Linked DNA regions of Homo sapiens. The protein of the gene in region 3 interacts with the protein of the main gene of each other region in a biochemical or structural test. Each region holds a gene or a part of one and is shown on either strand. Other genes may lie near its edges. The genes, in order: LIG1, HIPK2 and DCAF7.

What was found.
Region 1: the proteins of DCAF7 (region 3) and LIG1 form a complex in vitro, tested with the Homo sapiens proteins (one study listed by BioGRID).
Region 2: the proteins of DCAF7 (region 3) and HIPK2 form a complex in vitro, tested with the Homo sapiens proteins (one study listed by BioGRID).

Annotation. Positions count from the first base shown.
Region 1 is NC_000019.10:48,111,761-48,118,397, reverse strand, and holds the end of LIG1 (DNA ligase 1), read left to right. Parts: intron 1-616; coding exon 617-760; intron 761-2,432; coding exon 2,433-2,525; intron 2,526-2,665; coding exon 2,666-2,749; 3' UTR 2,750-2,953; downstream 2,954-6,637.
Region 2 is NC_000007.14:139,558,105-139,568,693, forward strand, and holds the end of HIPK2 (homeodomain-interacting protein kinase 2), read right to left. Parts: 3' UTR 3,466-10,589; downstream 1-3,465.
Region 3 is NC_000017.11:63,552,632-63,566,291, reverse strand, and holds part of DCAF7 (DDB1- and CUL4-associated factor 7), read right to left. Parts: intron 1-13,660. UniProt on the Homo sapiens protein: Involved in craniofacial development. Acts upstream of the EDN1 pathway and is required for formation of the upper jaw equivalent, the palatoquadrate. The activity required for EDN1 pathway function differs between the first and second arches.

The DNA.
Region 1 (6,637 bases), on a different chromosome or scaffold from region 3:
TGCCCTTTATAAAGCCGTCAGATCTCGTGAGACTTCCTCACTATCACGAGAACAGCACGGGAAAAACCTGCCCCCATCGTTCAGTTACCTCCCACCAGGTCCCTCCACGACACATGGGGATTTTGGGAGCTATGATTCAAGACAAGATGTGGGTGGGGACACACGGACCCTGACACCATCTCTGTCCCACTCTTTGGTTCTCTCTCTCCATTGCCCTCTCTCTCTACATCTCTGTCCCTGTCCCACTGTGTCTCTGTCTCCTTCCTCCAGGTCTCTGGCCCTTTCTCTGCCTCTTTTTGTCTTTAATGTCCTGCCTCAGCCCCCAGGGCCTTTCATTTCTTTCCATCTCCCATTCCTCCCAACTCCCACCTTTCTCAACTTTTTACTTCAAGGGGGTCTTGTTTCTTTTCCCTTCTTTCACTTTCTGTTTCTCTTTCTATTTCTGTTTACTTCAAGGGGGTGTCTTGTTTCTTTTCCCTTATTTCACTTCCTATTTCTGTTTACTTCAAGGGGGTGCCTGTTTTTTTCCCTTCCTCCCTCTCCCCAGCCCTCCAACACTTGGCCTTGACTTTGAGATTCCAGACCCTCTGTTCCTCTCTTCCTCTGCTCACTGCAGGCGCTGGTGCTGCCCAGCCCACGCCCTTACGTGCGGATAGATGGCGCTGTGATTCCCGACCACTGGCTGGACCCCAGCGCTGTGTGGGAGGTGAAGTGCGCTGACCTCTCCCTCTCTCCCATCTACCCTGCTGCGCGGGGCCTGGTGAGTGGCAGAGGACCTGGCCGTGGCCCTGTGTGGGATTCTGGGCGGGCACACAGAGAGCAGAGTAGGGAGGGGACCTTGGCTCACATCTGCTCTTCCAGGTAAGGATCAGGAAGATGAGCTTGCATTTTATTTGAGTGTCAGATAAAAAGATCAAAACATTTTTTCTTTAAAAATGGGCCGGGCATGGGGGCTCGTGCCTGTAATCCCAGCACTTTGGGAGACCGAGGCAGGCAGATCACTTGAGGTCAGGAGTTCAAGGCCAGCCTGGCCAACATGGTGAAACCCCATCTCTACCAAAAATACAAAAATTAGCCATGTGTGATGGCGGGTGCCTGTAGTCCCAGCTACCCAGGAGGCTGAGGCAGGAGAATCGCTTGAACCTGGGAGGCGGAGGTTGCAGTGAGCCGAGATCACACCACTGTACTCCATCCTGGGTGACAAAGCAAGACTCTGTCTCAAAAAAAGAAAAGAAAATTCTTTTCTTAAATAAAAGAATTCCCAGGGCAAGCACAGTGGCTCATGCCTGTAATCCCAGCACTTTGGGAGGCCGAGGCAGGCAGATCACTTGAGGTCAGGAGTTCAAGACCAGCCTGACCAACACGGTGAAACCCCACCTCTACCAAAAAATAGAAAAATTAGCTGGGTATGGTGACCCGTGCCTGTAGAGACGGGGTTTCACCATGTTGACTAGGCTGGTCACAAACACCTGGCCTCAATCCGCCCACCTCGGCCTCCCAAAGTGCTGGGATTACAGGTGTGGGCCACCATGCCCAGCCAAGAACTTACATTTTTGATCTAATTTTTAAAAATGTTTTACCATGCTGCACGTTAGACAGCCAGGGACCCTTAGTAACAAGGCACAGGAGCCGGTGTGTATCCAGCCCTTGCTGTGCAGTGGGCACTGTGTGGTCATCAGCGTGTCACTCATAGACACTCATTTAATCCTCTCAAAATCCGTAAGACGTAGTGACACAAACATCTCCATTTTACGGTGAGGATGTAGAGCCCTAGAGAGCCTGAGTAACTGCCCCTGCATCACGCGGCTCCTGAGAGTTGGGAGCTGGGATTGGAATCCCACAGTCAGATTCTAGAACCCATACCCTGGCGCCGTAGTTCAGCCTCTCAGCCCGAATTACCGTCATTATCGTAACGGCTGTAGCAGGTGGCATTTTTTTTTTTTTTTTTTTGAGTTGGAGTCTCGCTCTGTCACCCAGGCTGGAGTACAGTGGCGCAATCTCAGCTCACTGCAAGCTCCCCACCTCCCGGATTCACGCCATTCTCCTGCCTCAGCTTCCTGAGTAGCTGGGACTACAGGCGCCCGCCACCACACCTGGCTAATTTCTTTTTGTATTTTTAGTAGAGGCGGGGTTTCACCGTGTTAGCCAGGATAGTCTCCATCTCCTGACCTCGTGATCCACCCGCCTCGGCCTCCCAAAGTGCTGGGATTACAGGGGTGAGCCACCGCACCCGGCCAACAGGCAGCATTTCTTGAGCACTTACTGTGCCCGGGTACTGTTCCAAGCACTTTGTCAACTTGTTTAATCCTTATGACAACCCATCGTTCGGCCCCGTCATGTGGATCAGGAAACAGTCCAGAGTGGAGGAGGGAGGAGACTGAGCAGGGGGTCGCTGGGGCTGGACCGCAGGAGTCTCCATCCCGCTTCCGCAGGTGGATAGTGACAAGGGCATCTCCCTTCGCTTCCCTCGGTTTATTCGAGTCCGTGAAGACAAGCAGCCGGAGCAGGCCACCACCAGTGCTCAGGTGAGGTCCTGGGAAGCAGGGGTGGGCCGCCCAGCTGCTTGGCCCTACCAGCTTTTTAGCGTGGTGGCCTCTCTGGAACCTTGTGGAGGTGGGAGCAGCCAGGGAGCTTCTGACCACCCCGTCCCACCCTCTCTCCGCAGGTGGCCTGTTTGTACCGGAAGCAAAGTCAGATTCAGAACCAACAAGGCGAGGACTCAGGCTCTGACCCTGAAGATACCTACTAAGCCCTCGCCCTCCTAGGGCCTGGGTACAGGGCATGAGTTGGACGGACCCCAGGGTTATTATTGCCTTTGCTTTTTAGCAAATCTGCTGTGGCAGGCTGTGGATTTTGAGAGTCAGGGGAGGGGTGTGTGTGTGAGGGGGTGGCTTACTCCGGAGTCTGGGATTCATCCCGTCATTTCTTTCAATAAATAATTATTGGATAGCTACTTTGTGACAGGGTCTGTGCTGGGCTCTGGGGGCAAAGCTGTCATGGGTGTCACCTGCATAGCATGTAGCCATGTAGCCATGGCCTAGGAACTGCCAGAGCCAGTGCCAGCCATGGAACTGCCTGCAGTGGTGGGCGTCTTCTCTATCTGCTCTGTGCAGTGTGACCGCCACTGGCCACCTGCAATGCCCGAGCCCTTGACAGGTGGCCAGCATGACAGAGGATGCGAATTTGTTTTGTTTTGTTTTGTTTTGATTTTGTTTTGAGACAGAGTCTCGCTCTGTTGCCCAGGCTGGAGTGCGATGATGAGATCTCAGCTCACTGCAACCTCCACCTTCCGGGTTCAAGTGATTCTCTTGCCTCAGCCTCCCATGTAGCTGGGATTACAGGAATGTGACACCACGCCTGGCTAATTTTTGTATTTTTAGTAGAGATGGGGTTTCGCCATGTTGGCCAGGCTGATCTTGAACTCTTGGCCTCAAGCGATCCACCCTCCTCAGCCCCCCTAAGTGCTGGGATTACAGGCGTGAGCCACCACACCCAGCCATACCAAATATTTTATTTAATTGTATTGGACAGCAGTAGTCTAAAATCTTTACATACATATATTTTTTAACTTGTTTAACCTTCCAGCCATCCCACAGGGAGGCACCATCGTGAGCCCTGTTAAGGAAGACAAATGCAGTGTCTTAAAATAACACAGATGTATTCCCTAAACAGTTTCGGAGGTCAGAAGTTCAAAATCAGTTTTACTGGGCTAACATCAAAGTGGTGGCAGGGCCGGTTCCTTCTGGGAGCTCCAGGAGAGAAACTGTGTCCTTTTTCCAGCTTCCAGAGGCCACCTGGTTCCTAGGCTCATGGCTTCTTCCTCCGTCCTCAAAGCCAGCAGCATCGCACCTGCAAATCTCTCTCCTGAGGTCATCAGGTCACGTCCTCTCCTCCATCAGATCTCTGTTTCTCTCTTCCAAGTACTCAAGTGGTTACATTTAGGGCCCCCTGGATGATCCAGGATAATCTCATTTCAGGATCCTAACTCAATCCCAAAGTCCCTTTAGTCACATAAGATCACACATTCACAGAGGCCAGGCACAGTGGCTCACGCCTTGGGGAGGACTTGGGGAGGCTGAGGTGGGAGGATCACTTGAAGCCAGGAGTTCAAGACTAGCTTGTCCAACACAGCCAGACTTCATCTCCTCTAATTTTATTAATAAAATTAATAAAAATGTAAAAGGGCCAGGCGCGGTGGCTCACGCATGTAATCCCAGCACTTTGGGAGGCTGAGGCAGGTGGATCACCTGAGGTCAGGAGTTCGAGACCAGCCTGGCCAACATGGCAAAACCCCGTCTCTACTAAAAATACAAAAATTAGCTGGGCATGGTGGCGCGTGCCTGTAATCCCAGCTACTAGTGGGGTGAGGCAGGAGGATCACTTGAATCTGGGAGACAGGTTGCAGTGACCCGAGATCGTGCCACTGCATTCCAGCCTGGGCGACAGAGCGAGACTCCATCTCAAAAAAAAAAAAAAAATAGGTCACATCAAAGGTTTCAGCGATTAAGACCTGGATATCTATGGGGGCTGTTATTATTGCAGCCACCCCACATGGGATGATATGTTAGAGGAAAACCATCGGGAAATGGTCAGACAAGGCAAGCAGGATGCCTGGAACACCCACCCAGCCCTGGGCACCACGGGGCTGGCTTGGGGAAAACGGCTGCACGCGGAGCGGGGCCCAGGCTCGGGTCTTCCAGAGCAGGAGGCCTCTAACCCCGGGGCCCAGCGTGGAACAGGAGCTTCCGGGCATGAGAGTGTCAGGGTGTCCTGATACTCCCGCAGGGGGGACACAGGGCTCCCAGCTGTCCCCTGCCCCTCACACTCTGTTTCTGCCTCTCACATCTGCCCTCCCTCCTTCCCTTCTCTCTCATCAGGTTCCTCTGCCCTTGTCTCCCACCCGCCCTCTCTCCCCTTCCTTCTCTATCTGCGAGGCTTTGCTCTCTGCCGTGCAAGTCTGTGCCAGGCTTACTTTGCTGTCTGTCACTGTGACTCAGCCTCCCTGTCTCTCTTCCTGTGTCTCCATCATGGTCTCTTGTGCACACAATCTCTTGGGCATTCTGTTTCTATTTGTTGTAGCCCAAGAAGACAACATTGCCTTCCGAGTCTCCTTGGGGCTAGCAGTGGCCCTGTAGCCCTGTGTGGGCAGACCCAGGGGACATAAGCACAGGGGCTGCTGGGGACTTCTGGAGAAACATCTTTCCTGACCAAAAAGGACAGCCCTGGTTGTGGCAGCTCCTCCCCTCCTCCTGCCTTGACTAGAGATGATGGCTGGAGCCAAGTCACCACCTTGTAATGATGAGGAAAAAGAGTAACAAACTCTCCTGACGACCCTAAACCGGCGAACCTAGGGCAGCAGCTGCCTAACTGTGGGCTTTTGTTCATGGGAGTAGGGGAAGAATAAGCCCCAGGGCGATTATGCCACTCTAAAACATGGCTTTCAGCCGGGCACAGTGGCTCATGCCTGTCATCCCAGCACTTCGGGAGGCCGAGGCGGGCAGATCACCTGAGGTCGGGAGTTCAAGACCAGCCTGACCAACATGGAGAAACCCCGTCTCCACTAAAAATACAAAATTAGCCGGGCGTAGTGGCACATGCCTGTTACTCCCAGCTACTCAGGAGGTTGAGGCAGGAGAATCGCTTGAACCCGGGAGGAGGAGGTTGCAGTGAGCCGAGATCGAGCCATTGCACTCCAGCCTGGGCAACAAGAGCAAAACTCCGTCTCAAAAAAAAAAAAAAAAAAAAAAAAGACTTGTTTCTCATAGCTAAGAGTTCCTGATACAGCTCTGCCTTAAAGAACTGGCAAATTAGTGTGCATTTGTGTTTCAATTTCAAATAAAATGTTTAAGGCAAAAAAAAAAAGTAAATGTTGTATGTCAGGGGATCCCCACATTACTGGCTTTGTGTGGAGACCATGGTTCCTTTGGGCTTGGCTCTTCCTCCCTGCACCAGTGCAGGGCCCCAGGAACACATCTGCCACACACGGCCGCCATGTCCCTCTGCTGAAGCTAGTCAGGGTCATCCTCACTCCTCAGTGACCCTCATGATGGCTCCACCAGGTAGGTACTTTTATTCTCCCCATTTAACAGGTGAGGACACTGAGGGGCACAGGGATGTAAGTTACCTTCCCTAGGTCCACTATCTAGGAAGTGGTGGGCCAGGGTTTGGTCCATGCTGTCAGCTCCTTGACCCTGCATCTATAACTACTAACTATACTGTGGAGAGCCTCATGAGCTCCTGCGAGGTGTAGAACCTTATCCCGCAGGCGGGGCAGTGGCATGGTCAGGTCTAGGAGTGAAAAGATCCTGCGATGGTTGGAGTTGCGGGCACTGAAGAGGTGAGCCTGGCGTTAGGGGGAGCAGGGGAGACCATCTTCCCCCTGGTGAAATCCTGTTCTAAAATTGGTGATACTCCTGCCTTGGCCTCCCAAAGTGCTAGGATTATGGCCTCATATCTATTTTTAAAAAATAAGAATTCAAGCTGGGTGCGGTGGCTCGCAACTGTAATCCCAGCACTTTGGGAAGCCGAGGCAGGTGGATCACTTGAGTTCAGCAGTTCGAGCCAGCCTGGCCAACATGGTGAAACCCTGTCTCTACTAAAAATACAAAAATAATTAGCCGGGCGTGGTGGCAGATGC
Region 2 (10,589 bases), on a different chromosome or scaffold from region 3:
CTGCGTGCGGCACAGATTCCTTCTTTAAAGCCAAATGCTGGCAAAAAGGAAGGACTGAAAATGAAAGTTAAGAGACATGAGGACATCCAACCCTAATAGTGTTACATCTACACTTTGCTCTTAATGTATGCTCTGCTTTTATACTTAATGTTTGCTTAAAGTTAGCTATTCTAGTAAAGGGTTGGAAAACACATATAAGCTGGACTGTCATAAAAAACTTTACACTTGTTTGGAACAGGCTAGGGCATAGCTGCTGACACCCAGCCATGTGCCCTAAAAGCAAGGAGGGGTTTGTGATGCAGGAGCACGCCCTCTAGAGCCAATGCCGCAACAGGGACCACCACAACCTGGCTGCTAAGTGAGGGCGCCATTTACTTGTTTGCTTGGTCTTTCTCTAGGGGCCGCCTTGGCTATTAAGCAGCTTATCATTTTTATTACCCCAATATTAAATATGCTTAAGGGAAATATCGACAACAGTAAGTTTATCTTTTCACTTTAGACTTAAGCAACTTTATGGTGCACGAGTGTGAGCTCCTTGGATACAGCTACACTGCCTTCCCCTTTGACCCACTCGTATCTTTTTTTTTTTTTTGAGATGGAGTCTGGCTCTGTTGTCCAGGCTGGAGTGCAGTGGCATGATCTCGGCTCACTGCAACATCCACCTCTTGGGTTCAAGCCATTCTCCTGCCTCAGCCTCCCGAGTAGCTGGGAGTAGCCACCACACCTGGCTAATTTTTGTCTTTTCAGTAGAGACGAGGTTTCACCATACTGGCCAGGCTGGTCTTGAATTCCTGACCTCAGGTGATCCCTCCGCCGCCGCGCCAGCCTGGCCCACTCGTATCTCACTGGTGTGCAGAATCTACTTCCCTTTCCATTTCCACACAATGTGATTCCTCTCAATGCATTTGTCATAAAAATGACAAAATGCATGATGGAAGAATTCTGAAGCTTTATCCGAATGTGTTGCATGGATTTTATGTAGTTTACATTTTACCTGAGTTGAATTTAATCCGAGTTGAAGTGTGGGCCACATTCAGGGTTTTGTTTTTATTACTGGAATTCTGGGAGATGCTGAATTTGGAGAGTGGAAAGGTGGGTTGGGGGTTGGATGAAGGTGGGCTGAGGGGTTTGTTCATTCACCCGAAGGTTCATTGACCACCCACTCTGTGCCTGGCATCATAATAAGATGCCCTGGAAACAGATGAAAGACAGATCTTTACTTGCAAGAATGTTAGGGTTTTGTAGGGAAGGAAAATAAGGGAAGCAATGTTGACAGTGTGGCCTAATGAGAACAATGCACAAGGCGCTGGGAACCGAGACCTGCGCTGACTGCCTCAGTCAGGAGCGTTAGGGCAAGCTCCCTAGAGAGGGCACTCAGGCTGGTTCTTGAAGGACATTTAGGAGACACGGCTGAAGATCTGAAAGAGGGAGGGGAGACTTGACGGAGAAAGAGCCCTCGGGAGAGAGGAAAGGACGGGGGAAGCACAGGGCCTTCCTCTCCTATATAGGGCTGACGGGATCCGAGGCGGCAAGGCAGATGCCACTGCGACTGGAGGAGGGGGATGAGGGCACTCTGTCCAGCAGCCTTAACCTCTTTGGGTTGCCTGGGGAGTAGAGGTCTCATGAGAGTGGGGCTCAGGGCCTGGAGAGATCGGTGTTTCCCATTAGCCACAGAAGTTGCTGCTGGAACAGAAGACCTGGCGAAGCTGGAGGTTATTCGTTTTCAGGGCTTGGTGGTCTTCCCCAGCAGCCCTCGGAGCAGAGGTGGACAGCAGAATCACTGAGCCATTGCGAGGGGGTGTGGCAGAGGCAAAAGGCTGTGAGCTGAGGGTGTAGGGGAAAAGGTGGGTGGAGGGAAGGGCTGTGGAGTTTAGTCTGGCCAACCCAGAGGCACAGAAGACCGAGGGCTTGGAACCCAGAGCTCCCCAGACTTGAAAATCCTGGAAATGGAAGCCAGGATGAGTGCTGGGTGGAGAAACAGGACACCTTGTGCATTGCTGGTGGGAATGTGAAACGGTACAGCTGCTGTGGGGAACAGAATGATGGGACCCCAAAGGGTTAATCTTAAAATTGCTGTAGGATCCGGCAGTTCCCTTGTGGGTACACTCCCGGAAGAACTGAAAGCAGGGATTTGAACAGATCTTTTGCACACCAATGTTCACAGCAGCATTTGCACAACAGCCAAAAGGTGGAAGCAACTCAAATGTCCATCAACAGATAAATGGATCAGCCAAATGTGATCTCTCCATACAATGGAATATTATTCAGCCATGAAAAGGAATGGAATTCTGATGTATGCCATAACATGAATGAACCCTAAAGACATTATGCTAAGTGAGATAGACCAGACACAAAAGGACAAATATATGATTCTACTTACATGAAATATCTAGGATAGGCAGATTCATGGAGACAGAGTAGAAGGGTGGTTGCTAGGCACCGGGTGGAGGGAGAAATGGGGAGTTGTTAATGGGGACAGAACTTGTGTTTGGGATGATGAAAAAATTCTGGAAATGGTGGTGACACCTATACAATAATGTGAACGTATTTAACGTTGCTAGTAGTCCACTTAAAATGGTAATTTTATATTATGTATATTTTACCATAATTTAAGACAAAAAGAGTGTCAGAAGGCTGGGAAACCCCAGTCCCAGCAGGATGTGGCGTTTCTTAGGCTTGCTGAGGTGGAGCTGCTGCAGGCACAGCGCCTGGACGGGGCTGTGGCGCACGTAGCTCAAGTGCGCAGTGGCAAGGGCCCTGGCAATGGGCCAGCAAGCCACGAGGCTCCGGGTGCTGATGGTGTCTGGTGAGACGGCAGGGCCTGGGTGCGGAGGATCCGGGATGCATATTGGAAAGCTTCCAGGACAGCAGGTGACAGCCACACCTTAGGTGTCAGGGACAGAGATTGGGAGCAGATGGGGCTGAAATGGCTTGGAAGAGGCAGCAGGAAGCTGGGAGACTCTTAGCCCCACTCAACTGCATGGGAATTGGTAGTAATGTGATCTCAAGGCCCCCCACCTCTCTCTGCAAATGTTCAATGCAGTGGTGGCTTCTACACATTTCCAGAGCCATTAAATAATCTCGGCCCGGCGCAGTGGCTCATGCCTGTAATCCCAGCACTTTGGGAGGCCGAGGCAGGTGGATCATCTGAGGTCAGGAGTTCGAGACCAGCCTGACCAAAAAATGGAGAAACCCCATCTCTACTAAAAATACAAAATTAGCCGGGCGTGGTGGTGCATGCCTGTAATCCCAGCTACTCGGGAGGCTGAGGCAAGAGAATCACTTGAACCTGGGAGGCGGAGTTTGCAGTGAGCCAGGATCGTGCCATTGCCCTCCAGCCTGGGCAACAAGAGCAAAACTCCATCTAAATAAACAAACAAACCCCAAATATGTTACTTGTAACAATAACCTCTTCGCTTTTATGACAGGTCTGGTTCCAGGATAAATAAGCATGCCAGGCAGGTGTACAGTGATTTCAAACAGTTTAATGTAATTCCAAGACAAAGTGTGATTACATTTCTACACATATACAATATGCATATGTGAGTTTACAAATTTTAATTAATAAGTCATTTCACCTCGGAGACCGAAAAAATGATCAAAAAGAAACTATGAGTAACAAGCTATAACATAGTTCACCACAATGGGACCCCCCCCCCTTTTTCTCACCCTACAGTTAGTAATATTACAATTAAAATAACTATATTCTTCTATATTTTTTCTGTTAAAATCATCTCATAAATTTACAATGCTATTATTAGTTTCCAAGACTAATATAAATTCACTCCATTTTTCTACAACGAAAATGATTAATTTAGAAGCACACGACGTCATGATGAAAAACACAAGCATTTTAGTAGCAAGGACTTGATCAGTTAAGAATTAGTTTTCTTGTAAAACATTCTAAAGCCAAGTAAAATATCCATTCTTATAACATACCTATAATATGAGACTAAGGAATAGGTTACATATAGGTCTACAACACATTGGTTTGTCTTTAAAAAAACAAAAGTAGACATTTATAAATAAAAAAGAGGGACAATTCACATAGGAAAAAGAGGTACACGAGAAAATACTGTTGCACGCAATAATTTTCACACAGATTAACATGGATTAACACTTTTTATTACAGAAACCGTACGGTGAAGGAACACAACAGACCAGGGCTTTCATAGGGTTATTGAGATTGAGCTGAGATGACCTGGGAGAGAAAGATCTAGGTGAGATGACCCTGGGGAGGGAGCCACGTTCCTTGGACCTGGTGACTTAGTGTCGCCGGGTCTCCTCTTCCCTGTTCTCATTTTGGGGAGTGAGTCTTTCTATCCAGTGTCCTGAATTCATGAGCAGTTGAAAGGTAAACATTTCTGCAGATCCATTCTCTTTCTATCCTAATGGATACCATTTTTGGAAACGTGACAGAGTATCAGAGGCTGCAGCTCAGTACACGTGGTCAAAGCAAAACGGGATGGAAACTTCCAGTCACTCTGATTTGTTGCCCCCGTCACCCACTGATGCGCTTGAAGCTGGGACCCAGTGAGACAGCAGCAGCACCCTACAGGGCCTGCTGGCTCTGCCGTGGTGAGGTGGATGACAAGGGCCCGGCGCCACGCCTCAGCCCCATGTGTGCGGAGTGGCCTGGGACACAGCCCATGCACGTCCAAGACACCAGTCTTGACTCCGACCTCTAAAGAGCTCCTTCTCCTCATCTGTAAAGCTATACTTCTCCTATCCAATTTGGTTTGATATATATACACAAACATATATATCAACATCTATCTCTATACAGTGATTCTACTAAATTAGAAATTCTGCTGCCCCAAAGTATGACTTTCTTGTCTATTTCATTTGGTTAAAAAAATGCACACACAGAGGATGAAGAGATGATTTGGGGGCTAGAGATGACTGTGCCCTGGAAAGTCCATGGAAGAAGCTTGAAGTGAGCAGGAACACAAAAGGGAGGAGAGCAGAAACGGGGGACCGACTGACTCAGGGCAGCGCTGACGGGAACATCTGCTTGGGGTGGGGCGGGGCGGGGGTGTGCTCTCTGTTCCATTTGTTAGTTACAGGAAGCTACCAAGGATGCACATGGTCAAGTCACTTTCTACTTCCCAAGTTCCTCCTTATAACCTGAGCCAAACAATTTCAACAATGACAATCCATTGCCCCTTCAGCCCAGCAGGCGACTCTGACAGGGAGGTGTGACCACCAGTCTCAAGGCTGAGTGGGGCCTTCTTGCTGGCTCTCGCGCTTTCTGGGAGTCCTGGGTGCCTTGGCCCAGGGCAGTGGTGACAGCAGGGTGGAGGCAGAGGTGGCCCCGGGGACAGTGACCCTATATAAGGAAGGGGGCGGTGCCAGGAGAGATTCGTTTGGAGATTGGTTACAAGGAAGCGAGGGAGAGCAGAGGCAGAGCCCTTTTTCAGATACAACATACTTACTTTTCAAATGAACAAAAGGCAATTTCTATGTTTTAAAAATATAAGCCCCAAAAACAATGACACAAAATTCATTTGGTTAATTCATGTAAAGGAAAAAACAGCAACACCACCACACAAACAGGAAAGTGGGAGTATGATTAGGAGGGGTGAGATGAAAACTATTTTACAGTAACATTTCCACCAAAAGACTGTCCTAAGAACACGCTGTCAATACAGTTCACAGGGAAAAAGCAAATGTGGTATTTTTTTGTATTTTTTAAAAGCTCCCTGGTCCCAGGTGTTTTGCAGTTTTCAAGGTCTTATCTGCTAAAGGAATGCCCTTTAGGTCACAGCAGGTCCTCTGCAGTTTGGTGGTGGCACAAGAGAAAACATAAAAGAAACCAAGACTCAGGGAAACTGCCATTCCCCCAGTCTGTTTCTGCATGACAGTGGGGCCCATTCCTGTCTCGAAGCATCTTCTTGTTCCAAATATGATGTCTGTTTAGAGTGGGTCTCAATGGACCAGGCTGAGCTGCCCCTCTGTCTCTGCCTCCTCCTGCTCAGCCCTGACCATCTCTGAGAGGATGCTAAGGTCCCCCTCCCACCGAACTAGACTTTGAGTCTAAGCTGGACAATGAGTAAAACGTAAACATAGCCTTTTACATTGATTTTGCTTTTAAGGGGAAAACGAATAAATGACAGCAGATATATGGAAAACCCAGCCAGCGACCATGGGAATAGGGGTATATGGTCCTCCCCTACAAAACGCTGATCAAAATATCACCCCCGGCCCAGAAGTAGCAGCTGTGCCTTCATGGTCACCTGAATCCCAGTCTCTTCTACTGCCTGGTGCCTGGAAATCAGTGGATCTATTAATAAGTTAAATATTCAAATCAAGACAAAAATCAATGAACCAGGTTATCTGTTCTCAATGACTCTTCCAAGATGTCAGAGAGAAGGCCTTGAAGACAAGTGTTTAGACGACACGCATGAGACCTTCGCATCTGGCCCGGGCTGCGGACTCACACCTTTTCCCTCCATCTGGATTGCCTTTCATGTTCTCTTGAGTTCACGTGGAAAGTAATAATCCAGAGGGAAGTGCGCATGCTGGACTACAGAAGAGTCTGGGACAACACACTTGCCTTGGGGGAGACACAACCTCCAACTAAGAGGCATTCACTGGGGTTTGCGGATGTCAGTTATAAACAGAACTTTTCTTTAAAAAGTACCAGTCTAAATGTAAACTATAAAACACTTTAACTATAAAACGTAGCCAGAAATATGCTTAAGTATCCACAGTCAATTGTTTAGTTTACTCATTTAAAATGTGACTGTTTTGATAGCTTAGAAGGCTAACAGCATTTTACAGTAGCTAAAAACATATATACTTAACATGTGCATTTGAACATCGCATTTGAGTACAACACACAAAGAATAATCTCTTCCTTGGTTTAATTTTTGTTGTAAAGATGAGCTATTTTCAGAATTCACTTAAGCAACGATGACCGGGGGTATGAAGTAATCATTATTTTCAGCCCACAGAGAATTCATAGTCTTTAAATTCCAAGATCAAGCTGGCTACATGATTTCAAAAAAGGCTAAAACCAGGATGAATGCCCACATTTGAGGTAATTATTGCCATTAGGTCACAGTTTGTGTAAGATAATGTATCTAAAACCTTCTAAAAAAAAAAAAAATCTTTAGGTGTTCTGCCAGAATTCCAGAATACCTATTGAAACCAACCAGGATCTCAAACTCCGATTAGTTAGGTTTGCTTCCAATGGAGTTAAAGTTCTAAAAGATTCTAGAACTTGTGTAAACTACCTAAGAATTTAGGCAAACAAGCCTGGAGCCAGTCAACAAAGAAGGTTTTAAATGAAAAAAGGAACAAGAAACCCACTCAAAACAACTGAACAAATATTTCATAATAAATGATAATAGTTATTTTAAAAAATTAAAAATCTAGTCCTAAGCATTTCTACATTCTCACCATCTTTCAATCAAAATAAAAATGCATCTGTATTTCTGTTAATCTCATACCAGGGCAAGAGACACGCCTTCCTTTTATCATGAAAGCTGGCTGGTTTTCCTGTTTATACAATTGTTGCTATTTCTTTGAGAAGAGTATCTCAAAAGAAAACATTCTTTTGTTCCTCTAAGTCTTGTCTTTCTTCCACCTCTACTTCTTTTTTTTTTTCTTTTTTTTTTCTTTTTTTTAACAGAAAGAAAAAAGTTCCTGGACACCAGACCCACATATGGTATTTACAAATTTGGTGTGAACCCTGCCTCTGGTTCTGCCCAGAGCTGAAGAGTGAATCTATTACAGAGATCAGAGCTGTCAGGATAATTATCAAGTGCAGTAAAAAATAGCATTTTGAAAAAAATATATACCTTTAGTATTGCCTTTCTAGAATTAACTATAAGCAAGAAAAACTTATTTTTTAAAGAAGAAAAGAATACTTTTTCACTCTTACTTATAAGAGCTGGTTGTAGCAGCACTACTAAAGCTAGTTGGTATGCTGGAAAGAAATCTAAAAGGAATTCTATGAATCAAAAGAAACTCTCCAGAGATTTTCTCTAAAAATCAAACGAATTCTGCCCCTTTTGCCTAAATCCAACTCAGGAGCCCCCTCTTTGCACAGTCCTTTAGCTGAGTCCCACGGTGCATGGGATGGCACAGGGTGATGCTGTGTAAAGGCCTTTCTTTGCTCAGACATGCAGGAGACAGCTGTGGCTAATGGCTGCAAGCTCAGTTCTGGAGCTGGGCAGACTCAGGTTCAAGCCCTCCTCGCCCCTCAAGAGTTGTGTGGCTCTGGGCAGTTTCCTTGGCTGTAGGGGGACTAATATTGCCGATCTCACAGGGCTACGGAGAAGATGAAACAGGACAACCCATGAGCAATTCCCAGCACAGTGTGTGGCATGCAGGAAGCGGGAGTATCACTAAATGGTTCATAGAAATATGAGGCCACGCATTGCTATTAATTAAAAAAAGTTAAAAGATTAAAAATCACATCTCAGGAAGGGCCTGATGAACAAAAAAGGGAACCTTGGGGATTCTGGCCCATCACTGCTTTATCCTTCCTTCAACACCTGCCACTTCTCAGAGCATCCGGTCAGCTCCCTTATCTATAAATGGGGGCTGTTATCCCCCTCCCTGTGGGATGGCTGTTGGGGCCCCTTGAGACAACGCTCATAAAGGCCTTAGCCCGGGAGTCATGAAAGCATTCAACAAATGTTGGCTATTATTTACTTGAGAGATATTGCAAATTTTAACAAATAAGGGACAGTCAGTGTCATGTTCAACACAGGGATCTGAGATGAGGGGCTCCCAGAGGCTTGGGCAAGTCCAGCGGGGGGCATCGGGAAGACCCTCTCTGGTGCTGGTGTTCTGGGACGGGAGCCCTGCAGGGGGCACTTCTCTGCAAACTCTCACTGGGTTTGAGGGAAGAACGGCCTGGAGTTCTTTTTTGAACTTTTCAGAAGCTGCAACAAGAGAAACCTCTACTATGCTGGGTCCCTCTAGTGAGCCACGGTGCCAAAAGCCTCCAATAGGTTTTTTTTGCATTTAAATCCTGTTTCACCGCCTTCCATTCTCTAGTGGCCTGAGATTTTACTGAGTCTGGTCTGTGGAGATGAGAAGTGAGAGTTCTAAGGCATCAAAGTGGAAAAGTACTGCTATTCCGAGCCCAGCCCCCGCGTGCTCTACGCCCTTGATGCAACTGAACTCCTGGCAGCCCTGCTTTGCTCTCTCCCATGGTGGCCTGGGATTAGTCAAGCCCACGTATTGGTATGGCACCTTGTCTCCCGATAGCAGCAGCATCGAAGGGGTCACCTCCACTCCTCTTAAAAGAATAGCACAGTTTTGAAATAAATGCATTTTTTTTTTTTAAAAAAAAGGACAGAGAGGAAAGAGAAAGACAAATAGAATTGCATCACTAATGATGTCATTATTGCCTGGAAAGGAACGAAGGGAAGGCCATTTTGTCCATTTCTGGAGGCGTCTTTGAGAAGGGTTCTTTGGCTAAAGAAAGGAACAGTTTCACCTTCCTTTCCAATTTGGTAAGGACATCTCTGGCCTGCTCAAGTTTGAAGCTTCCCCATCAGAAGTCTGTAAAACACACCAGAAGGAAAAGACACAGACAGGGAATGAAGCCTGCAAAGTCCCTGGGGCTGGAATGTCTTGTGGCCAAGTCACTCCTGCTGGCGCTGTGGAGTCCCAGGCTGGCCTGCAGAAGGAACCCTTACCTCTCCTCAATTCTCTCTGCTAGTTGAGAGCACCGAGCCATTTCCTTCTTTCCATTTTCTGTCCTAGGGTCTACTTGACAGGCCAACAAGAGTGGTGGTCCCACACCCCACCCTGCCCTCAGCATCAGACAAAGAGAACCTGGGACAAAAGCTGGGGCGAGCTGGGTCCCCACGTCGCTCTCTCAACCATGAGCCATCAGTAATACTTCCCGAAGCCTCCTCATCTCCTCCCTCCAGTTTCCAAGAAAGTTTGTTCCACTCACTCACACATGCTCACACGGCCTAAATCTTCCACCCCAAGCTTGTTCCAATATGAGTGTTTGCCATTCCCAAGGTCCAACCAAGGGAAATCGTTCTGTCAGCAGTTGGGCTAATCTCCCCTTCCCTTCCTGATGTCCATCCGTCTCACACGTTGGTGTCTGGGCGGGCTGAGTCTTCTAGGTTGAAGAGGACAAAGGTCAGCTGGCTCCCCCAGCCCGTGAACACCTCAGCCACCAGGAAGACTAGAAAGGCTAACAGTCCAGGAGATGAATGCCGCTTTGCTCCAACCCTTCTTTTTCCTCTGAATTCCACTGACCGCACGCTCCACTTCACAGTATTAACTGGCATCAAGCCTCGACTCTCCCACCCCTTGATCTGCTCACCCACTTCCCTTGGAAACATCCAAAACATCATGAAGAGGCCCTAAGCACAGAGACATGGGGGCCCACGTCCAGACGGGCCAGTCAGAACCCAGTGAGCAGAAGCAAATTGCCCTGCGGTTCACCAGGCTCCAGTTAAACACTCCTCCGTGACCTGACATTTCAAATCTTCCCCTCTTCCTCTGAACAATGTCTCTTCAAATGGGAAGGAGGGAGCCCACAAAAGACTAGAGGATGCTCTAGATGATTCGTGGGCTAAGTAAGGACTAGGTTGGCATCCCTCTGCTTG
Region 3 (13,660 bases):
TCACGCCATTCTCCTGCCTCAGCCTCCCGAGTAGCTGGGACTACAGGCGCCTACCACCACGCCCGGCTAATTTTTTTGTATTTTTAGTAGAGACAGGGTTTCACAGTGTTAGCCAGGATGGTCTCGATCTCCTGACCTCATGGTCCGCCCACCTCGGCCTCCCAAAGTGCTGGGATTTTCGTTTTGTTTTTGAGACAGAGTCTCACTCTCTTGCCCAGGCTGGAGTGCAGTGGTGTAATCTTGGCTCATTGCAACTTCTGCCTCCTGGGTTCAAGCGATTCTCCTGCCTCAGTTTCCTGAGTAGCTAGGATTATAGGTACACACCACCATGCCCAGCTAATTTTTGTATTTTTAGTAGAGACAGGGTTTCGCCATGTTGATCAGGCTGGTCTCGAACTCCTGACCTCAAGTGATTTGCCTACCTAGGCCTTCCAAAGTGCTGAGATTACAGGCGTGAGCCACTGCACCTGGCCAGAGGCTGAGTACATTTGTTCATTGACTACCTTTACTTTTGAATAACAATAATCATTAATAACTGAGCACTTACATGGACCAAGTATAAGCATTATTAATGCTTTACACACATCATCTCATTTAATCCTCTCAATACTGCCATGAGGTAGGTACTATTATTCTTCCCACTTTCAGTAAAGAATGTTGAGTTAAATATCTTGCCCAATATCACAAAGCTCCATTTTATTATTATTATTATTTATTATTTTTTTGAGACAGAGTTTTGCTCTTGTTGCCCAGGCTGGAGTGCAATGGTGCGATCTTGGCTCACCACAACTTCTACCTCCCGGGTTCAAGTGATTCTCCTGCCTCAGTAGCTAGGATTATAGGCATGCACCACCACGCCCAGCTAATTTTTGTATTTTTAGTAGAGACGGGGTTTCTCCATGGTGGTCAAGCTGGTCTCCAACTCCCAACCCCAGGTGATCCGCCCACCTCAGCCTCCCAAAGTGCTGGGATTGCAGGTGTGAGCCACCATGCCCGGCCACAAAGCTCTATTTTAAATACAGGCAGTCCCATCCCACTACCCAAACTCTTCACCATTACACGGAAATCACCAGCTTAGAACATTTGTCCAGTTTTTCTACTGGGTTGTGGATATCTCTTTCTTATTGATTTGTAAGGACTTTCTCTCTTTTTCTAAGAGATGGGGTCTCACTCTCACCCAGGCTGGAACGCAGTGGCATGATCATAGCTTACCACAGCCTCCAATTACTGGCCTCAAGCAATCCTGACACCTTGGTCCTCCCAAAGTGCTGGGAATTATAGGCATGAGCCACTGAGCCCAACTCCTCATCTAGATTCGTGACTGTACTGTTACAAATTGTTAGTAGCACTCTCATTCTTTAAGCTCCTCATCCCCCAACACCACATTTCCGCCTATGCCCATAGGAAGGATGAGTTTTTGCCCCAGTCCCCCATGGAGGGAATACTGAGCGTGGGAGTTCTGCTCTTCTGTCCCCACCACTCACTAGCTCCTCCGGTGGGGGAAGAATTGCTGAAGTGATTGGCTGAAGCCCGAGACAGGTGCATGGGCCTGACCACTCTACAGTCAGACATGTCCCATGGCTCTCTGGCTCTGGCTTATCCTGCTCCTACATGGACAGGCAAATTGGCCTCCTCAGAATGGGCCTGACCATCCTCCGCTCCAGTTTCTCTGAACCTACAACTGGGTAGGAGAGGTCAGATTGGGTCTGTCCTTGAGTCAGAGGTAGAAAAGCAGAAAGTTTCACTGAGGCTTCAAGGCCAAACTGCATTTTCCCCACTTAGTTCACCAGGGAGCAGCACCACATTAGTGGTTCTTGTTCGGTTATTAATAAAATGATGCTAGGTTTCCCCTTTGGCTACTATTATTTGTATATAATTTCCTTGATAAGACTCCAGTGGAAAAAGAGGTGAGTGCTAGAATTTAGATACCAGAGTTCTAGCCTGAACCCCTTACCATTATATCCTCTAACATTTTCTTGTCCATTTTTACAAGTTTTATCTATTTTGATGACATTCCAATTGGGTTTATTACATTCTTTAAATGTACTTTTAGATTGTAAGAGGATTATAAAGTGTATCACATCATATAAAATCAAACAAAACACAGGTGTGTGTGTATATATGTGTATGTGTGTGTGTGTGTGTGTGTGTGTGTATAAAGTTAACATCCCTCTATGTCATCCCCAAGATATCACATAATTTGTTGTGTGTTGCTTCTACATTCTTCTATATGGTCAAACATATATACATTAAGTGTAAAGTTTTCCCTCAACTTTTAGAAAAATGAAATTCTAGAGCCAAGGCTATGAATCTCTATTAATTTGACAAAATAATGGACATCCCTCAGAGCAATATGAAGAGCCAAATCATTTTTTTAATCTATGTACCGGGATTCCCCCAGTGCTGTACACTGTTTTCTCTTACTTGCCGCTACTTATTTTTATTATTTATTTATTTATTTATTTATTTATTTATTTGAGACAGAATCTCACTCTGTCGCCCAAGCTGGAGTGCAGTGGCACGATCTCAGCTCACTGCAACCTCCACCTCCTGGGTTCAAGTGATCCTCCCATCTCAGCCTCCCGAGTAGCTGAGACTAGAGGTGCCCACCACCATGCTAGGCTAAATTTTTGTTTTGTTTTGTTTTATAGAGATGGGATTTCACCATGTTGCCCAGGCTGATTTCAAACTCTTGAGCTCCAGGGATTACAGGCATGAGCCACCACGCCCAGCCACCACTACTTATTTATATGCCTTTGTACATATGTGTTTATGAACTGCTGTATTTTTTTCTGGAGGCCAATGTCCTAACAGTGGGATTTCTGTATTAGAAAGTATGTGCATTTTAAATTTTAATAGACACCAACTTACTTTTCAAATAGACTGTAGCAACTAACATTCTTAGCAGCAGTATGTAAAGGTGTTCATTTCTCCATACTGTCAACAGCACTAGAAGCAATAACTTAATTTTTATAAATTTAAAAGGGAAAGATGATATCACAATTCTCATTTCCCTTAACTACCTGTGAGGTTCAGCATTTTTCCTGTTTACTGATCACTTGCATTTCCTCTCCTATGAACTAGATATTCATACCCTTTGTCCATTTTTCTATTGCATTGAGTATTAGCTACTATTGTCTGTCATGTTTTGAAAATATTTTCCGCCAGGCAGGGCTTGGTGGCTCATGCCCATTATCCCACTATTTTGGGAAGCTAAGGTGGGAGGATTGCTTGAGCCCAGAGTTCAAGACCAGCCTGGGCAATATGGCGAGATCCCATCTCTACAAAAAATAAAAATAACTAGCCAGGCAGGGTGTTGTGCGTCTGTAATTCTAGCAACTTGGGAGGCTGAGGTGGAAGAATCTCTTGAGCCTGAGAGGTTGAGGCTGCAGTGAGCTGTGAATTGTGCCACTGTACTCCAGCCCAGCTCATAGAGCAAGACAGTGTCTCAAAAGAAAAAAAAAAAAAAGAAAATATTTTCTGCGGTGTTTGGTTTTTTGTTCTTGTGCATATTCTCACTCATAGGTGGGAATTGAACAATGAGAACACACGGACACAGGAAGGGGAACATCACACTCTGGGGACTGTTGTGGGGTGGGGGGAGGGGGGAGGGATAGCACTGGGAGATATACCTAATGCTAGATGACGAGTTAGTGGGTGCAGCGCACCAGCATGGCACGTGTATACATATGTAACTAACCTGCACATTGTGCACATGTACCCTAAAACTTAAAGTATAATAATAATAATAAAAAATAAAAAATAAAAAATAAAAAAAGAAAATATTTTCTGCTGTCTTTTGACTTTGTCCATGGCATATCTTTCACAGAGAAATGTTTTATTTGTATGTACTATAGAATCTGCCAATCTTTTCCTTTGTTGACTCTGGAATTAATTAATGAGTGTCCGTGCGCACCCCCACTGCCTCATGACAAATTTCCTGATCAACTTTCTAATAATGTTTGTGGACTTTCCTTTATAATTAGACGTTTGATCTGGAATTAGTTTTCATCATACACTGTGAATTAGGGGTTCTAAATTTTTCTGCTAGATGAACAACTGTGCCATACGATGTAATCTTTTACCCAGTGAATTACAGTTCTATCTTATCACATATTTCACATTTATATATACTAAAGTTGTCTTTGAAATATTCTATTCAGTTCCACCTATCTCTCTGGCTATATCAATTCCAGTATGTTTATTCTAATCTGGTAGGGTAAGTGTTCCTCTGTTTTTCAACATGTTCTTTTTCCCCCTAAGTTTTTTTTTTTTTTTTTTGGACATTGACATACATTTATTCTGAACACTCTGGAGACAGACAGCACTCTAGTTCTGGCCCTCCTTTACCCCTTATATGACTTTGGGCAAGCCACTTAGCACATAGCTGAGCTTCAGGTTCCTCACCTTCCTGTAAGTTTTGATATGTAGCATTTTTTTTCCAATCAGTTGATTTCAACTTAAAAAAATTTTTTTTCTAAATACACAGTTTTTGTAAATTGGGTTATTGTTTAAAGTGAATTTTCCGTTGAATGCAAAGCTCTCTATACTTATAACACATTTTCTTCTTTCGAGATGGGGTCTCACTCTGTCACCCAGACTGAAGTACAGTGGCTCGATCTAGGCTCACTGCAAGCCACTGCCTTCTGGGCTCAAGCGATCCTCCCACCTCACCCTCCCAAGTAGCTGAAACCACAGGCATGGTGCCACCACATCTGGCTATTTTTTATATTTTGATAGAGATGGAGTTTCACCATGTTGCCCAGGCTGATCTCAAACTCCTGGGCCCAATGATCTGCCAGCCTCAGCCTCCCAAAGCGCTGGGATTACAGGTGTGAACAAACTGTAATTTTCTAACCCTCTATATCCTTGTTTTGTCTACTTCACTTAACAATTTCCAACATATGAACCAAATTCTCCCTATATTTACAAAATTTTTGCTTTCTATTTAAACGCTATACTCTTAGATATGTAAAGACTTATGACTTTTTATTCTTAGTCGGTTGTACTTTTCTTTTTTATTTTTTGAGATAGAGTCTTGCTCTATTGCCCAGGCTGGAGTGCAGTGGCGTGATCTCAGCTCACTGCAACCTCCGCCTCCCGGGTTCAAGTCATTCTCCTGCCTCAGCCTCCTAAGTAGCTGGGATTACAGGCACACACCACTACACCCAACTAATTTTTGTATTTTGAGACAAGGTTTCACCATGTTGGCCAGGCTGGTCTTGAACTCCTGACCTCAAGTGATCTGACTGCCTCAGCCTCCCAAAGTGCTGGGATTACAGGCATGAGCCACTGCACCCAGCCTGTAGTGGGGATTACAGGTGTGAGCCATCACGCCCAGCCTGTATGTTTAACATGTAAAATATTTCCTTTTGTTTCAACATTTTTGCCTTGAATTTTATCTGATGTTAATATTATCATGCCTGACTTCTTCTCTATAAAAAGAACTGCTTCTTGCTACTATATGCCTAGTGCTTCTTCATTCATTCCTTTCTGTTTATTCCTCTTTCTGAAGTTCTACTAAGATTTAATTTTTATTAATGTTAGCTTTTTTATTACTAACTTTCTTACTAGGTAATACATACACAAGGCCCAAATTTTGAAAGGCATAAAAGCAAAGCAATTACAGTACAAATTAGAGCCCCTACATCCCAGTCCCTTTCCCTGGAAAAATCAATGTTATCAATTTCTTGTGTATCCCTTCTACACACAACCACATATGGGTGTACATATGTATATGCATATGCTTTTAAAAAACACAGGTGTTTACTCTTCTACATATTTTTCCACCGAATATTTATTTTAAAATATTCCATATCAGTATATGAAAAGCTAGCTCATTCTTTTAACAGCTGCATGGAGGTAGCATAATTTATTCAACAATTTCCCTAATAATAATATTTTCATATTTTTCTTTTACAAATAATGCTAAAATGAATATCCTTGCACTTTAGTCATTTCAACCACATGAGTATAGCTGTAGGATGAATTACCACTAGCGGAACTACCAGGTGGAAAATAATGCCAATTTAAATTTTGATAGCAACTGCATGGGAAAGCTACACATACGTGTATACACACACACACAGTAGATTACCACGGTTTTTTATTTTTCCTAATCTAGCTGAAACTCCATTTTTTTTTTTTCTTATGAGGTTCAGTTCTTCATACGTTCAAGAATCATTTACATATCCTTTCTGGAAACTCTTCCTATCTATTTCTCTTTTTCTACTGGGTGACTGGTCTCCTGGTGATTTGCAGATCTTTATATGCAGTTATTAAGGGATTTGTTCTTTGTCTAGGACATTACATGTATTTTTTCAGTTTGTCACTTATCTTTTGACTTTGGTTTTGTTACAGAGATTTTATTTTTATATAGTTTACTTCTACTTTCATGGCTTTCTCACACCAAGATTCTCCCGTGTTTTACAGTTATATGTTTACATTCTTCCATTTATCTGGAATTCTGGTACAAGGTTTTTTTTTCTTTGAGACGGAGTCCCACTCTGTTGCCCAGGCTGGAGTGCAATGGTGCCATCTCGGCTCACTGCAATCTCTGCCTCCTGGGTTCAAGCGATTCTCCTGCCTCAGCTTCCCGAGTAGCTGGGATTACAGGCACCTGCCACCATGCCCGGCTACTTTTTGCATTTTTAGTAGAGACAGGGTTTCACCATGCTGACCAGACTGGTCTCAAACTCCTGACCTTAGGCGATCCACCCGCCTCAGCCTCCCAAAGTGCTGGGATTACAGGTGTGAGCCACTGCACCCGGCTGGTACAAAGCTTAAGGTAGAGATCCAATTTTTTTTTCTGGTTTCAATACCAATTATTAAAAATATATATATATATATATACACACACATATATATATACGTATATATATACATATATATACATATATATATACATATATATACACATATATATATACATACATATATATACGTATATATATGTATGTATATATATATACATATATATATATATATGGGTCTCACACTGTCACCCGGGCTGGAGTGCAATGATGCAATCTTGGCTCACTGCAACCTCCACCTCCTGGGTTCAAGTGATTCTCCTGCCTCAGCCTCCCAAGTAGCGAGGATTACAGGTGCCCACCACCATGCCTGGCTAATTTTTCGTATTTTTAGTAGAGACGGGCTTTCACTATGTTGGCCAGGCTGGTCTCGAACTCCTGACCTCGTGATCTGCCTGCCCCCGCCTCCCAAAGTGCTGGAATTACAGGCGTGAGCCACTGTGCCTGGCCTTAAAAATATTTTTTCTTCATTTCCTATCACCTTTAGCACAGACTACATTTCTTTTTGTATTCTGAGTTCATTTCTAGACTCTGTTTATACATCAGTTCTTAGAGTATCAAACGATCTTATTTATTATATCTTTGCATTATGTTTTAATATCCATCATTAGTCCACCTTTTCAGAAGTTTTTTGACAATGTGTGCATGTTTGTAAAATTTATCTGTAGAAACAATCAGTTTGCCTGGTTCTAAAAAACCATTATTAAAAATCTGGAGTATTTTTGGCCAGGTATGGTGGCCTATGCCTGTAACCCCAGCACTTTGGGTTGGGCAGGCAGGAGGACTGTTTGAGGTCAGGAGCTCAAGACCAGTCTGAGCAACATAGTGAGACACCTACTGATTAAGCCCAGGAGTTTGAGGTTACAGTGAGTTATACTCACACTACTGCACTCTAGCCTGGGCGACAGAGCGAGACCCTGTCTCCAGAAAAAACAACTGTGGTATTTTAAACAGGGATTACATTAAGTTTAGGGACACTGACATCTTTAGGATACCAAGCTTTACTATACAAGAAAAGAGAATACCTTCCCATTTTTCGAGTATTGTTTTGTGTTCCCCAGCATTATTATTTCCACATAAACCTTACATATGCCTAAGTATATCCCCAAGTATTTATAGCAGCACAATCTACAGTATTTGTACATTCCTAGACATTGCTCCATGGCCTTCTGTCATCAAATGTAGCTAGCCTAATTTCTTTTCCCCTCTTAAAGAGGACTTGATCATTTTGTCTGGGTGTCCAAATAATTCTTTCTTCATCCTTAAAACATAGAAATGTTCCTAGGGATGCCAGGCTCTGTGCCAGGCCTGTAGTCCCAGCACTTTGGGAGACTGAGGTTAGTGGATCACTTGAGCCCACAGTTTGAGACCAGCCTGGGCAACATGGCAAAACCCTGCCTCTACAAGAAATACAAAAATTAGCGGGCGTGGTGGTGTGCACCTGTAGTCTCAGCTACTCGGGAGGCAGAGGTGGGACAATCGATTAAGCCTAGGAGGTCAAGAGTGCAGTGAGCTGGGATCATGCCTCTGCACCCAGCCTGGGCAACAGAGTGAGACACTGTCTCAAAACAAAACAAAACACACGAAAAATAAGATAAATTTTTTAAAAAAGAAATTTTCCTAGGAAATGTTTCAGTGCCAACTGTTCAGTGCCAATTTTTCTTATCACTTCATGCCAATTTGAACTTATCACTTCAAATCTTTGGCAAGTTCAAATCATGCCAATTTGAACTTATCACTTCAAATCTTTACTTCTAAGTTCTTCTTTAACCATATATTTGAGTTTGTTTCATTTCTTTGGTCCTCTTCTTGAGGGACACCAATTATACTTACGTCAGATCTCTTTTACTTTCTGCATCTATTATGTTCTCATTGTTTTCTTCAGTTTCATTTTTCAATCTGTCCTCCCTAACCTTTACTGTTTTCAGCACTGTGTGTTCATCTTTATTCTGTTTCTTTCTTTCTTTTTTTTTTTGACAGTCTCACTTCATCACCCAGGCTGGAGTACAGTGACATGATCTCGGCTCACTGCAACCTCCTCTTCCCAGGTTCAAGTAAGTCTCCTGCCTCAGTGTCCCAAGTAGCTGGGATTACAGGAGTGAACCACTGTGCCCAGCCTTTATTCTGTTTCCAATGTGGCTTTTAATCCTGTGATAATTTTAGTTTTCTCTTCCACTACTTTCCTGTGTGCTCTGCCAGCTGATGTTATATTTTCTCTTTGCCATGCCTTATTTTACCCAATCCTCTATATCTCTGCTTGAAGTTCTGTATTTTCTTAAGTTCTTTGAACTCACAGTGGTAGGACTGACAATTATTTTTCAACCAAGCTAAAGACATCTTTTTAGTATGGGTACTTTATCTGCCACTTATTTTCCATTTCCCCCCATCCTTTCTAATAGCATCTTTCTACAGCTATTGTGCTGATTCCATTTGTTTTGTTTTTTTGGTTTTGAGATGGCGGTCTCGCTCTGTCACCCCAGCGGGAGTTCAGTGGCAAGATCTTGGCTCACTGCAGCCTTGACCTCCTGGGCTCAAGTGATCCTTCCATCTCAGCCTCCTGAGTAGCTGGGACTACAGGTGCATGCTACCACTCCCAGCTAATTTGTTTTTTCTTTTGAGATGGAGTTTCACTCTGTCACCCAGGCTGGTGCAGTGGCACAATCTTGGCTCACCACACCTCCGCCTCCCAGGTTCAAGTGATTCTCCTGCCTCAGCCTCCCAAGTAGCTTGGATTACAGGCACGCACCACCACATCTGGCTAATTTTTATATTTTTAGTAGAGCCGGGGTTTCACCATGTTGGTCAGGCTGGTCTCAAACTCCTGACCTCGTGATCCGCCAGCCTCAGCCTCCCAAAGTGCTGGGATTACAGGCATGAGCCACTGCGCCCGGCCCTGATTTATTTTTTCTTTTTGAAACAGTCTTGCTCTGTTGCCTAGGCTGGAGTGCAGTGGCACAATCTCCGTTCACTGCAACTTCTGCCTCCCAGGTTCAAACTATTCTCCTGCCTCAGCCTCCCAAGTAGCTAGGATTACAGGCATGTGCCACCATGTCTGGCTAATTTTGTATTTTTAGTAGAGACAGGGTTTCTCCATGTTGGTCAGGCTGGTCTTGAACTCCCGACCTCAGGTGATCTGCCTGCATCCACCTCCCAAAGTGCAGGGATTACAGGCATGAGCCACTGCGCCTGGCCATATTCCACTTTAACACACACAGTCCTAGTGCAGAAGAAGAAGGTGAATGTGTGTATGTATATGTAATTTTTAAAATAAGCTCCCAAGTTATCCAAATCAACATAACACTCCAGTCACTGGAACATTTTCCCACAATTGTTAATAAAACAAAAATCGGCTAACACAATATTCTGAGAATATACACTAGCTTTTCCTGGTCTTTTCTATTTGCTTTCTCTTCAAGCCTCTTCCTGACTGATTACCAAGGACCAGTGTCTGCAGGTACCCAAGGTCCTGCCCTATTAAACTTTAAGATGAATTCTGGCACAGCACACCTTTGGCTCGTGGCTCAGAGGCTGACCAGAGAGCTCTGGCAGCGAGAGCTTTGGCAGCAAGTCCTTAGGCAAGCCAGGCTACCTACAGAGCATAGATTCACTCCTTGTTCAAGTGACAGCATCTCCAATAAGTCTATGTGAACAAGATTAGGACAAAAAGCAATAAAGTAGCATTTTTTTTTAAAGCATTATCACTTTTATCCAGTGGTCACAACAGGGAATGAGTCCTCTCACTGTCTAGAAAAAGGAGGAAGTTAAAACCAGAAGAGTTTTATGTCTTAAATTCCCCTGCTGACAGTCTTGACAGGGACTCGTGGAACACTGCGACATTCTAAATATCTATCAAAAGTACTGATGTGTACCAAAACACATTGTGCCTAAAACACATGAGTATGTGTTCAATACAGACCGGCTAAATTAATGAGCAAATGAATGATAATCCTGAAGGGCTACCGCAAATACCAAGATGAAAAATTAAATACCGGAGTCGAAATAATTATGCATCAAACATATAAAGTAATTGTATTAAAAACCTCAGAGGAATCAACACAGGCTGGTGAGGTGAGTACCCATCCCAGTGTTTCAAGTACAAGGTGGTCATGCCACCCAGACTCACTACTAGGATTCTCCAAAAAGCATCAGATATACCTACAGTCTCTCCTCAGAACCTCAAAAATACTCTCTGGATGCCAAATCTTAGAGCACAAGTAGTCAGTTAAATACTGGGGCAAACTAAATCCCAATCACACTGCCATCTTTATCAAAACCAACCCTGAAACATGCACTTAAGTGGAACAGAAGCCCAGGAACTGCTACCCAGCTTTTCCCAATAAAAGAGGGGAAATAACACCTGGGCCTAAAGACCAAACATATTGTCAAAACACAGGAGAAATGCCAAATTCTTATATCTGACTTACGTAGGTAAGCCAGGTAGAACAAGAGAAAATGGATTTAAACTAGAAAATTACACTACTTGGAGTCTGACTATAAGAATCTGCTAGACTACAAAATGAGTTGGGTTGAAAGAGATAAGGGAATTTTCCCCCCAGAGTCTTTAAAAGGCAGAGAATGAAATAATGACCTTTTCAGCTACCTTTCTGACCTCTTATTCCTGAATCCTTTCTGGAAAATACAAAAGTAAATTTACTAAACAGCCATATAATTCTCTTTGGTTATATTTCAATTACAGGTACAGTAATGATAATAATTAAATAACAGCTAACATCTCTATATGGCTTATTCCACACCGGGTGGCGTTCCTAAGTCCATTACATATATTAACTCATTTAATCTTTGAACAAGGTAGATGTTATTATTTATTGCCCTAATTTTACAGATGATGAAACTGAGACACAGAGGATAACTTGCCCAAGGCAATACAAAACTGGGAAGTGGCAGGACTTAGATAACCCAGGCTAATCACAGAGCTTTTTTCATGGGTGAACTTGGATGGAAGGGCAGAACCAATGTTTAGGAGCATGCAGACACAAAAAGATCACATTCTCGCCTCTGGCCAACAGATGCCAAGGCAGCTCCAGGGCCATGTTCTGAGAGTGCCATCTGGACCACTCAACCACTAGTGTGTCTGTCACCTATCTCCAAGTCTGTTAACTTCAGGGGTGGAGCCCAGGAATGTGCAGCTCCCTCAGGATTCTCACACACTAAAATTTAGAGAACCTGTTGCTCCAACACCAATCTTGCTGTATCCCTCAAGAGACCACAACAAAAGAAGGTAGAAACATAATAACCAATAATGAGGCTGTTTTTTGAGACAGGGTCTGGCTCTGTCGCCCAGGCTGGAGTGCAGTGGCGTGATCTTGGCTCACTATAACCTCTGCCTCCTGAGCTTAAAGCATCCTCCTACCTCAGCTTCCCAAGTAGCTGGTACTACAGGCAGATGCCACCATACCTGGCTAATTTTTTAATGTTTTTGTAGAGTCAGGGTTTCTCCATGTTGCCCAGGTTGGTATCAAACTCCCGGGCTCAAGCGATTCTCCCATCTCAGCCTCCCAAAGTGCTAAGATTACAGGTGTGAGCCACCACGCCCAGCCCTATAATGGGGCTTTTTATTCCAAGTGTAGTTGATAGAATCTGTTTCTTTACTCTGCAACAATTCCCAAATTTATTCACATGAAGGAACACCTGGAAGTCAATTTCTTAAACTGTTGATAGACTTAATTCTATGGATCAACTAGGTACAATTTTACGTTAGGAAAACATGATTATGCTAATGCAAATTTTTAAAAATTACAACCATGTTTTCTTAGTGAATGTCTCCACACTAAAAAGATGACCACTTCTAGCCTTTTTCATCAGTGTTAATTTGCTGTGTCCATTTTACTTTATCCTCTGCTGGTGACCACTATCCATGGCAAGCAGGAACCAATGGTCTAAAAATTCCAACCAATAATTCTAAAGTTCCTCCAAATTATGAAGTCGACCACCTCTTTGGCAGGGTTTCTCACAAACTTAGCCTGAGAATCACTTTAAGGCAGGATTTGCTGCTCACCAACCACTACACATACTTCTCTCTCGCAGGGTTTCTTAACTTGGGGTCTGTGAACTTGAATTGGAAAATTATCCCCATATTTCCATTAACCTCTAGCTAAATTTTTTTGTTTCCTTCAATTACAAATGGGGTCAGGTGCTCACAGTGGTATGACTGTCTGTGACTTTGCCAGCAAGAGAATTTTTTTTTCCCACCACAGCACAGTTGTTAAGCATCTTGAAATGCTGTTTACCCTTGTCACCATTTCAAAATTACATTAATAATTACAGTGGATGGTGTAAATCAATAAGTTAATTTATTAAAAGTACATATGACTACATCACCACTTTAAAAAACATGTTGTTTATATCTGTAGTGCAACATAAGTGGTTTCTTTTGTAATTCTATGTGTTTTATGCATTTGAAAACATAACTATGAGAAGGGGTCTATTGGTATCAGATGACCATGGCACACAGAATTTAAGAACCCTGATCTACTGATAGGTGGAGGCACAAAAATGATTTTAAGACAGCGCATTGCCTACATCATGTGAGTTAAGATATAGTTAACTGCTAATGCTGTTGATAGTGGGGTTATTAGTTTGCATTTCACTGCTAAGCCATGCTACCTGTGTGCCTGTCACAAAGAGGAAGCTCCAGATAGTTGCTAAATGAAAGGACAAACTGGGGTAGAGTTCCTGCAACAGCAGTTTGACTACTCCACTGATCCTACCAAGCAGCCTAACTGTGGCTCAGTTTCTCCTCTCTGAGGAATAGGAGTAACTATTGCTTACCCAACGACCCTGGAAAAACTTACAAGAAAAAACATTAATTTGTGTAAAAAGACTTAAGC